Linked DNA regions of Homo sapiens. The protein of the gene in region 1 purifies or fractionates together with the protein of each later gene. This does not show direct contact. Each region holds a gene or a part of one and is shown in the gene's direction. Other genes may lie near its edges.

Region 1 (3,654 bases):
GTCCTACACGGAGGCAAAGAAGGAGGAATTGGCAATGCCGCAAGTCCCTGCTGTTCCCTGGAGAACAGGTGAGAGCATCTCCAAGAGCTCTCCCCTTTCCACTCCTCCAGCTGAGGAAAATGAGGCTTGGAGAAGTTGCATGACACACCTTGGGTTCCACAGACAATTGGCACTGTAAACCCAGTGCCCTTTCCCGTGCTCCACGGCACCTGTAGTTCATCCCACAGCTGCGTTCTACAGACCGGAACACTGCTGCTCACCTGTGTTCACTTGCTGGTCAACAGCCAGTTAGGAGCAGAGCAGGAGCAGGTATGCTTCCTGACTTGTAGTCAGGGGCTCTTGCTGCCTACCCACCCAGAGACATTTTGCAGGAACGTCCCTGAAAAAACTTCCCAGTGAAGCTGTCTACAACCCTTTAATCTGACATGAAGCATACATATGCATATGTACACACGCACACACACAGTCATGCACACGTGCACACAATCTCAGTAGATAGAGTCCCTGGTTTCAAATCATTGAGCAAAAATAATCCCAAAAAATCATGGGCAAGTAAGTGGGGTGCTAGGCTGGAGAATAAAAACAGAAATGGGAAGCGAGAGGTCACCCACGGCAGGGCAGGCAGGAGGAGAAGCGCTCTGCTGTCTTGACTGCTCACTCCACCAGAGAGCGTGGGGGCAGGGAGACCCTGCTCGAAGCAAAATGAAATTAAACCTTTCTAAGTACTTATAAATCAGCACCTAATGACACTATCCCACCACCAGCCTGAGCATTGCTCTTATTACTTTGATTCACAAGCCAGGAAAAGATCCGGAATTATGCACAAATTATTGTCCCATCTTCTTAATTAACGCTGATTGCAAAATTCTTGCTAAAGTCCTTGCTAACAGACTCAATTATGCGCTGCCTGAATTGATTCACCCAGATCAAGTGGAATTTATTAGAAATACACTTTCCTACAATAACATCAGATTATCTTTGAATATAGTTGAATTATTTAGGAACAAAATGGCTGCTGCAGCAGCCCTCTCTTTAAATACAGAAAAATATCTCCCACCACCTAGAATTAAAATGTTTCTTTGCTTTCTACGAGACACACACCCTAGGCTCTTTTTTTTTCCCCAGAAGCAGGTTGAATGACACTGTGATGAGATGAGATGCATGCCTTAGAGCTAATGGTCCGGCTTCAAAGGCATATGGACAAGAAAAAAAATCCTACAGGGTCGCGTCTCAGCTCCCCCCAAGTATGAACTGTCACTGCCTGTGGAACACAGTGAAATTGCAATTAGACTAAATCAGGGTATTTTCAGAATCAAAATTGAGAAACGGGCTAATAAAGAAATAATGTATGCTGATGACATCCATCTATTAACATCATCCCCAAGCACACTGGAGAGTTTGGAAAGAACAAAAAGCAATGAGAATAATAGCGGAGAGGCTTTTCTACCTTTCTGAGATGACGACAGTTTCCTGCCACAAGTGCTCTGCTTGAGAAGTAAACATTCCGAAGGAACTAATTGGAAATGGCAGGCATGCTCTCTGTAGCCTGATTCTAGCTTCCCATCCAATGCCCCACTATCTTTTAATGCCAACCTCTGCACCTGGATATTGGACAGGGACTAGGTTTGTCTTATTTGCCACATCCTGCACATACTAGGTACCTAATAAATACTTATGGGCCGGGCATGGTGGTTCATGCCTGTAACCCCAGCACTTTGGGAGGCTAAGGTGGGCGAATCTCTTGAGCCCAGGAGTTTGAGACCAGCCTGAGCAACATGGCAAGACTCTATCTCTACAAAAAATACACCAATTAGCCTGGGCATGATGGCACACACCTATAGTCCCAGTTACTTGGGGGACTGAGGCAGGAGGACCACTTAAGCTGGAAGGTGCTGCAGTGAACCGTGATCATGCCACTGCACTCCAACCTGGCAACAGTGAGAGCCGGTCTCCAAAAAACAAATGAATACATAGAAATTAAAAATAAATAAATAAAAAATAAATATTAATGCACCAAATAGCACAGGGAGAACACTGTAGAAATCCTCTGACTTGACCCTCGAAACAGGAGCATGTTCCTGGGAGGCTGTGATCCAAAGGAAGGAAGCCCAGATAAAGGGAGGCGAGCAGGAAACGTAGTGCACCCAAGGCATGGCACGTGGGACAGGGAAGTGGGACACAACTTGGACTTGGGTGTGTAAATCAGAGAAGAGAGGAAGCCCCAGGCAAAGAGATTGGGACGATATTGTTTGAGGCTACACATTCTAGGCACAGGTGTTTACACTTACTTGGAAAAGCCATGAGGAGCCATTCAGCAAAGGAATGAGGTCATCTTAATTTGGAAAGAAAACACCTGACTCTTTTACTTAGGTAAAGCAGAAGATAGAGGAGAAAGGACAGGTGCCAGGAGAGGCCACCAGCTGCTAGCTATTCCCTCACAGCCACCCTCCTCTCCTGCTTTACCAGCAAAATCCCTGTGGCATGCAATGTGCCCACCTGAAAAAGAAATACATCTCCCCACTGTGTTAGTCCGTTCTCGCATTGTGATAAAGAAATACCAGGCCAGGCGCAGTGGCTCACACCTCTAATCCCAGCACTTTGATAGGCCGAGGGGGGCAGATCACCTGAGGTCAGGAGTTCAAGACCAGTCTGGCCAACATGGTGAAACCCCGTCTCTACAAAAAATATATAAATTAGCTGGGCGTCGTGGTGGGCGCCTGTAATTTCAGCTACTCAAGAGGCTGAGGCAGGAGAATCGCTTGAACCTGGGAGGAGGAGGTTGCAGTGAGCCAAGATCGCGCTACTGCACTCAGGCCTGGGCGACAGAATGAGACTCCGTCTCAAAGAAAGAAAAAAAAGAAAAAGAAAGAAATACCAGAGGTTTAATTGGCTCACGGTTCTGCAGGCTGTACAGGAAGCGTAGCGGCTTCGGCTTCTGGGGAGACTTCAGGAAGCTTTCAGTCGCGGCGGAACGCAAATGGGGAGCAGGCAGCTTACAGGGCAGGAGCAGGAGAAAGAGTGGGGTCGCGAGTGCTACACACTTTTAAACAACCAGATCTCACAAGAACTCACTATCTTGAGAACAGCACCAAGCGGATGGCAGGAAACCGTTCCTGGGAACTCCGCCCCCATGATCCCATCACCTCCCACCAGGCCCCACCACCCTCATTGGGAATGATAATTGGCATGAGATCTGGGCGGGGACACAAATCCAAACCCGATCACCCACTTCCCTTGAAGCTAGGGCTGGTCTTGTTCCCATCAACGATGGGCTTAACAGCAGATGGAAGAGGACAGAAGACAGAGCCGGCAAATTTGAAAACATCAATAGAAAAATATTTGATTTGAAGAAGAGAAAGTAAAATGATGGGAAATTAAATGAACAGGATCTGTGGGACAAAATAAAAGGTTTAACATACACAACTAAATGCAAGAAAGAGAAGAGAAGAATAATAACAGGGTGGAAAAATATGATTAAAGAAATAACTACCAAACGTTTCCCAAATTTAGTGGTAAAAAATGTAACTTTATAGATTCAAGAAGTTCAGCCAACCAGAAGAAGGGCAGAGTTGATAGAAGGGAGTCAGCTGTGTGGGCTCGCATGCCTGGGTGCTCAATTCCTGTTGTTGAGTCAGGTTTACTCTGAGAATAGAG
Region 2 (3,654 bases), on another chromosome or scaffold:
GGTCCCCAGGGCCTCATCCGGTTTGTTGATGGGATATGGTTCCCCCCAAACAGCAGTCTTACTTTAACTTTTGTTCTCCTGAGGATGGAGATGATAGGTGGTGGCCAGTTACTTCTACATCTTGCAAGGGCATGAATGGAGAGGGATTTGAGGTTTCAGCTATTTGGGAAAGCATTAGATAGTTTGCATTTTTTTTTTATTTATAGTTACCAATAACCCCTTTTCAATTCCCTAGGCTTCTCATTCCATTAGTTTAATCATATTTCCCAGAATCATACGTTTCAAGCTCTTGACGGTTAAGCCTTTCTATCACGTCCCACTCTTAACCCCCAAACACCCGCATCAGTCTTCTTTGTCACAGATGTTTGAAGGATGCTTTCACGTTGGGCCTCTCTTTGTATGTGCAATTCTGCTGCCTGGCACAGTCTCCCCAGTTTCTCTGAGGCCCAGCAGGCTGCAGGTTAAGCTTTTCCTCCTCTGGGCCGGCCTGATCTTACCTCTTGCCTCGTCCTCCTCTGTGTTTTCATAGCATCCTCTGCACATCTTTGTTCAAGTTGCCTGTTTATAAGCTTCTCCCTTTTCATACACTGAGGTCCTCTCTGAGGGCAAGGAGAGAGCTGTGCTCTTATTTTTATTCCATTATAGTACCTGGCATGGAAAAAAAGCTGTGAGTGATGAGTAAATGAATGAGTGAATGTTCGCAGAAATCAAATCACTATGTTCGAAGAATACAATTCGGCATTAAATTGTCCCCCTGCCTTCAAGTAGCTGAGGCCAGGAGAAGCTGCAAAGCAAACTGGTTGCAAATTCAGGGTTATGGGGTCAGACCTCGCTGCCAAGTTCAAAGTCCAGCTCTGCTCTTTGCAGTTCTGTGACCTGGGCAAGTGACTTAATATGTCCGAGCCTTAGTTTTCTCGTATATAAAATGTGGATAATACTACCCACATTGCAGCGGTATTATGAGCCCTAAGAGAAAATACGTATTTTAGAAATGCTGGCATTTAGTTGGAGCTCGATAAATACTTCCCCCTCTTCTTCTCACCCAAATGTGTGAGAAGTTGAATAATTGTCTAGATAACAAATACAATTAGTTTTCAAAGGAAAGAAATATCACTGAAGGGAAAGAGAAAGTAGGATTTGCGATTTGAGCTGTAAAATAGATATGATTTACCCAAAATACGAGTAAAAGGAAAATAGCCCAATGATCTGAGAGTGGAAAGAAAAAGGTAGAAGTAAGACACTTTTCACCTAGTTCCACTGGCTGAATCTACTTGGTCCAGCTTTTTTTTTGTTTTATTGATGGTTGCTTTTTGTTTTGTTTATTTTATTTTTAGTCCTAGGAATGTGGGCAAGTAACTATTTTCACATGAAATGTTCCCATGTAAATTACTTCCTTGAGTGAGTAAATATGCTGCAATGCCCCATTCGTTTTAATTAAATGTACTTAAAAACTAATCTTATTTAAAGTCAGAGGGTAAAGCAGTCTGTTTAAGTTTATTGTTTGGCATTGTTTTAATCCAGGCTTTAAACAAATTTGAATCTTACTAAGAGTGGCTTACTTTCAAAGAAATCCCTGATTTCCCATCCTTTGATCCTAATGATTCTGGGGCATGACCCAGTGCTGATTATTATGGATGGACTCCTGTTAACTTGGCAAATCAGCCATGGACCTGTGACGGCCATGGGTACAAGACAAAGCTGCTAACAGAAAGGGAATATGGATTGTGTGGAGGCTGGGCACAGTGGCTCACGCCTGTAATCCCAGCACTTTGGGAGGCCGAGATGGGTGAATCACGAGGTCAGGAGGTCGAGACCAGCCTGGCCAACATAGTGAAACCCCGTCTCTACTAAAAAATACAAAAATTAGCCTGGCATGGTGGTGGGCGCCTGTAGTCCCAGCTACTCAGGAGGCTGAGGCTGGGAAATTGCTTGAACCTGGGAGGCAGAGGTTGCAGTGAGCCGAGATAGCACTACTGCACTCCAGCCTGGACAACAAAGTGAGACTTTGTCTCAAAAAAAAAAAGAAAAAAAAGAGGGGGGATATGGATTGTGTGTTACTCATTGGGGTGGACAGGTGGCCAGCACAGGCTTGATTTGTCTATGGACTACAAGACGAAGGCTACCAGTAGGAAGGTAATATAAGGTGAATACGTGGTCAGCAGATGGGTGATTCTGTCCCTGGGGTGGAAGATGAAGGCTGCCAACAGGAAGGAAGCATAGTCTGTGTGCTGTTTGTTAGGGCGTGTAGAGGTAGCCAGCAGGAAGATTCCTTTCTCAATCTCAGAAAGCAGCACACCCAGAATACACTAGAGAAACCCTTTGCAGAATCAGGATTTAAGTATGTCAGGATTTTAGATAGACTATGATATGATATGCACGAGGATTCTAGATATTTCTCAAAGGTAGAAATAAACCTTTGATATCAACACCTTTATTTATTTATTTATTTATTTATTTATTTATTTATTTATTTATTTATTTATTTTGACAGAGTCTTGCTCTGTCACCCAGGCTGGAGCACACTGGTGTGATCTTGGCTCACTGCAGCCTCTGCCTCCCGGGTTCCAGCGATTCTCTGTGCCTCCGCCTTCTGGGTGGCTAGGATTACAGGCATGCACCACCATGCCTGGCTAATATTTTTGTATTTTTAGTAGAGATGGGGTTTCACCATGTTGGCCAAAGCTGGTCTTGAACTCCTGACCTCAAATGACCTGCCCGCCTCGGCCTCCCAAAGCACTGGGGTTATAGGTGTGAGCCACCGTGCCCAGCCAACACCTTACTTTTGTAGGAAGTAAGAGACTGAGGTCCAGAGAAGTAAATGACTTTCCTAAGGTCTATGGTATAATCAGAGGGTAGTGTTAGATTAAGACCCTAGCTCTCCTCTCTCCCTGTTTGATATTACATGAGAAGACCAAAGGATTATTAATTTTTTTTTTTAAGTTCAGTTGGAGATTCAGCTCGGGTGAAACTTTCCTGTGGAGTCTCTCCAGACCTCTCCTCTTTTGGGCTCTGCTGTGTACCACACAAATGCCCATCCAAGCACCTCTATGCTTGGCTATTTGTATCTGTTTGTTTGCGTGTCTCCCTACCAGGTAGTAAGTGCCTTAGTGGCAGGACAGTTGTTTCCGTGGTTTCTTCAGACTATAACGCAGTGCTTGGTAAGTAAAGGTACTTCATACATTTTAAAATGGAGATGTAATGTAGTACACCATAACATTCACCACTTTAACATTTACGAGCCTGTGCATTTTAGTAGAACCACGAAGTTGTGCAACCATCCCACTATCTAATTCCAGAGCATTTTTATCAGCCCAGAAAGAAACCTTGTGCCCGTTAGAAAACATCCCTGATGACTCACATTCCTCAGCTGCTGGCAACGACTTATCTCCTTTAGGTGTTTGTGGGTTTTCCTATTCCAGACATTTCATCTGATTGGAATCATGTAACCTGTGATTTTTGTGTCTAGCTTCTTTTACTTAGTATAATGTTTTTAAGGCTCATCGAGGCGGTAGCATTTATCAATACCGTATTCCTTCTTATGGCTGAATAGTATCCCATTGTAGGGATATATCACATTTTCTTTATCTTTTCGTCAGCCGATGGTCATTTGTGTTGTTCCTGCTTTCTGGCTATTATGAATAATGCTGCTATGAA
Region 3 (3,654 bases), on another chromosome or scaffold:
CATCACCCACCCATCCATTCACCCATCATCCATCCATCCATCCATTCATCCATTCATCCATCATCCATCCACCCATCCATCCATCACCCATCCACTCATCCACCCATCCATTATCCATCCATCCATTCATCCATCCATCCATCATCCATCTATCCATCTATCCATCCATCCTCCGTCCATTCATCCATCATCCATCCATCCATTCACCCATCATCCATCCATCCATCATCCATCCATTCATCCATCATCCATCCATCCATCCATTCACCCATCATCCATTCATCCAGCCATCATCCGTCTATCCATCCATCATCCATTTATTCATCCATCATCCATCCATCCATCCATCATTCTTCATCCTTCCATGCATCATCCATTCATCCATCCATCATCTACCCATGCATCCATCCATCATCCATCCGTCTATTCATCCATCCATTCATCCATCCATCATCTATCCATCCATCCCATTATCCATTCACCCATCCATCCCTTCATTATCCATCCATCCATCCACATATCCATCTGTCATTAATCCCTCCACTGTCTATCCATCCATTCATCCAGACAGCCAGCCATTCATCTATCCATCCCCCATCCATCCATCCATCCTTCATCCATTCACCGTTTTTCTATCCATCCATTCATCCATCCATCCATCTGTCATCCATCATCCATCCTTCTGTCCATCATCCCCCTACCTGTCCTTCCCTCTTTTATCTCTCTGTCTACCCATTCTTCCATTCATTCAACAGAATCAGAGAACTCCAATTGAGTCTGGTGCCTTGATTGTGAATCTAGGCATGTGGCAGGCAGACCCCTGTCCCATACAGGGCATTTATGATGAACAGTGTCATCAGGACCCCTGCTCACATGTGCTCACTCCCCATGGAGAAGCCCTTGCCACTTGTGCCCCTTCATTTGGGAGAGTGAGCAGGGGACATAGCAGGGATGATGTGCAAGGCCACCAGCCCACCTGCAGGGTCAGAGCTGATCCCCTCTGTGGGGTGCTTCTGCAGGGTTGCCAGGGTAATTAGCATGTTAAAATGAACACGGGAGGGAGTGGATGCCCCAGTCCCAAGTCACCTACTGGCCACAGGCCTGGAACTAGAATGTCCCTCCTTGGTTCTGTGCCTCCCGAGTGCTGGAGAGCAGAGGGGTTGTCTGAGCAGTAGTCCAGGAAGGGGAGAAAGAGCCCTGAGTGTTGAAGATTCGAGTGCGCTTTCAGCAGCGCAGGAGCAGGCTTTGTGCACGGCTTCAGCTTTTGTCCTTTATTCTAGATGAGCAGTTCTCAAAACTTGTGGTCTTGGGAATCCTCTACACTCTAATTTACGTGGCGTTTTTAATGTTTATTTTCTTGCATATAACATTAGGATGGGCCAGGCACAGTGGCTCACGCCTGTAATCCCAGCACTTTGGCAGGCTGAGGCAGGCAGATCACCTGAGGTCAGGAGTTCAAGACCAGCCTGGCCAACATGGTGAAACCCTGTCTCTACTAAAAATACAAAAATTAGCTGGGCGCGATGGTGGGTGCCTGTAATCCCAGATGCTCGGGAGGCTGAGGCAGGAGAGTCGCTTGAACCCAGGAGGCGGAGGTTGCAGTAAGCTGAAATCACACCATTGCACTCCATCCTGGGCAACAACAGCAAAACTCTGTAAAAAAAACCAACCAACCAACCAAACAAACACAAAAACACATTTATCCTAATGTTTTTTATATATCCTTAGTCCCAATTGCTTTCTTTTCTATGCCTTTTTATTTCATTTTTTAAAAGGATTTTTTTCAAAATAATTATAGACACAGGAAGTTGCAAAAGCAGTACCAAGAATTTCTCGACTCTTAAAAATTATTGAAGGCCTTGGCTGGGTGCGGTGGCTCACGCTTGTAATCCTAGCACTTTGGGAGGCTGAAGTGGGCAGATCTCTTGAGGTCAGGAGTTTGAGACCAGCCTGGCCAACCAGCCTAGTTTCTTTAGTAGAGAAACCCCACATGCCTGTAGTCCCAGCCACTCGGGAGGCTGAGGCAGGAGAATCACTTGAACCCGGAAGGCAGAGGTTACAGTGAGCCAAGATTGCACCTCTGCACTCCAGTCTGGATGACAGAGAGTCCATCTCAAAAAAATAAAAATTACTGAAGGCCTTAGAGAGCTTTTGTGGATTACATCTGTTGATATTTATCACATTAGAAATAAAAGCTGAAATGTTTTAAATGAACAGTTCATGTTAACATAAGTAACATTACACTTATGAAAAATAACTATTTTCTCAAACAAAAAATTTTAGTTAAGAATCTTATTGGCTTCCATTTTTGCAAATCTCTGTAATGTCTGGCTTGACAGAAAACAGATGGACTCTTGTAGCGGTTTTCTGCATTCACTTGTTTTTTCGTTTGTTTGTTTGTTTTTCTTTTTTAGCCTCCCAGGGCTTCCTCGCTATGTGATGCCTTGTTTTATTGAAGTTTATGAAGAAAACTGGGCAACACAGTGAGATCCCATCTCTACAAAAAATAAAAAACTTAGCCGGGCGTGGTAGCACATGCCCGTAGTCCCAGCTACTCAAGAGGCTGAGGTGGGAGGATTGCTTGAACCCAGGAGGTTGAGGCTGCAGTGAGCTAGGATCACACCACTGCACTCCAGTCTGGATGACAGAGAAAGACCCTGTCTCAAAAAAACAAAAAAAAAGTTTTCACTCAGTGTCTCCCTGAAAAGTCATTGGGAACCCCTGGGGGTCTACATTTCAAGAACCATTCCTCTGGATCGGGGTTTCTCAGTCTTGGCCTTGTTCCCGTGTGGCTGGCCGTCCTGTGCACGGGAGGATTTTAGCAGTATCCCCATAGCCTTTACCCACTAGATGCCAGAATTCCACCCCCCACCTGGTAGTTGTGGCAACCAAAAATATCTCCAGATACTTCCAAATGCCTCCCCTACTCCCACCCCCAACAGGGACAAAACCGTCTCTGGTTGGGAACTACTGCTGTGAGATCTTAGGTGACAACTAAGTTTCATCTTGTTGGGGCTGATTTAGAAGCCACATCCAGTTTCACAGAACGGTGCATCAGGATTGATTAGCAGGCTGGCCGCGGTGGCTTGTGCCTGTAATCCCAGCACTTTGGGAGGCCGAGGCAGCTGGATCACCTGAGGTCAGGGGTTCAAGACCAACCTGGCCAACATGGTGAAACCCCGTCTCTACCAAAAATACAAAAATTAGCAAGCCATGGTGGCATGCGCCTGTAATCCCAGCTACTCAAGAGGCTGAGGCAGGGGAGTTGCTTGAACCTGGGAGACGGAGGTTGCAGTGAGTTGAGACTGAGCCACTGCACTCCAACCTGGGCAACAGAGCAAGACTTCGACTCAAAAAAAAAAAAAAAAAGAGAGCTATTGATTAGCAATGTCTGCCATGAGTGCAGGAGGGAGAGTAACAGTGCAGTGTGCTGGGATTGATGAATGATGTCTACTACAGATGCAGAAGAAGAAGCACCAGGTACAGCGGGGGTGGCCCCGTATAGGTCTCAGCTAGCTGAGGCCCCTGGGGCTCTGTATGCCAGATGGCCCCTGTCCTTGCCTACTTCTTCCTTCTGGGCTCCTCTTCCCGTAGGTGTTCATTGAGGATGTCAGCAGGGAGTTTGTGGAGGAGTTCATCTGGCCGGCCATCCAG

The links.
Region 2: the proteins of ASB18 (region 1) and ABLIM1 purify together in Homo sapiens (affinity purification with mass spectrometry, with the first as the bait; one large-scale study listed by BioGRID). This does not show direct contact.
Region 3: the proteins of ASB18 (region 1) and ASS1 purify together in Homo sapiens (affinity purification with mass spectrometry, with the first as the bait; one large-scale study listed by BioGRID). This does not show direct contact.

Annotation. Positions count from the first base shown.
Region 1 is NC_000002.12:236,254,350-236,258,003, reverse strand, and holds part of ASB18 (ankyrin repeat and SOCS box protein 18), read left to right. Parts: intron 1-3,654. UniProt on the Homo sapiens protein: May be a substrate-recognition component of a SCF-like ECS (Elongin-Cullin-SOCS-box protein) E3 ubiquitin-protein ligase complex which mediates the ubiquitination and subsequent proteasomal degradation of target proteins.
Region 2 is NC_000010.11:114,648,232-114,651,885, reverse strand, and holds part of ABLIM1 (actin-binding LIM protein 1), read left to right. Parts: intron 1-3,654. UniProt on the Homo sapiens protein: May act as scaffold protein. May play a role in the development of the retina. Has been suggested to play a role in axon guidance.
Region 3 is NC_000009.12:130,454,807-130,458,460, forward strand, and holds part of ASS1 (argininosuccinate synthase), read left to right. Parts: intron 1-3,594; coding exon 3,595-3,654. UniProt on the Homo sapiens protein: One of the enzymes of the urea cycle, the metabolic pathway transforming neurotoxic amonia produced by protein catabolism into inocuous urea in the liver of ureotelic animals.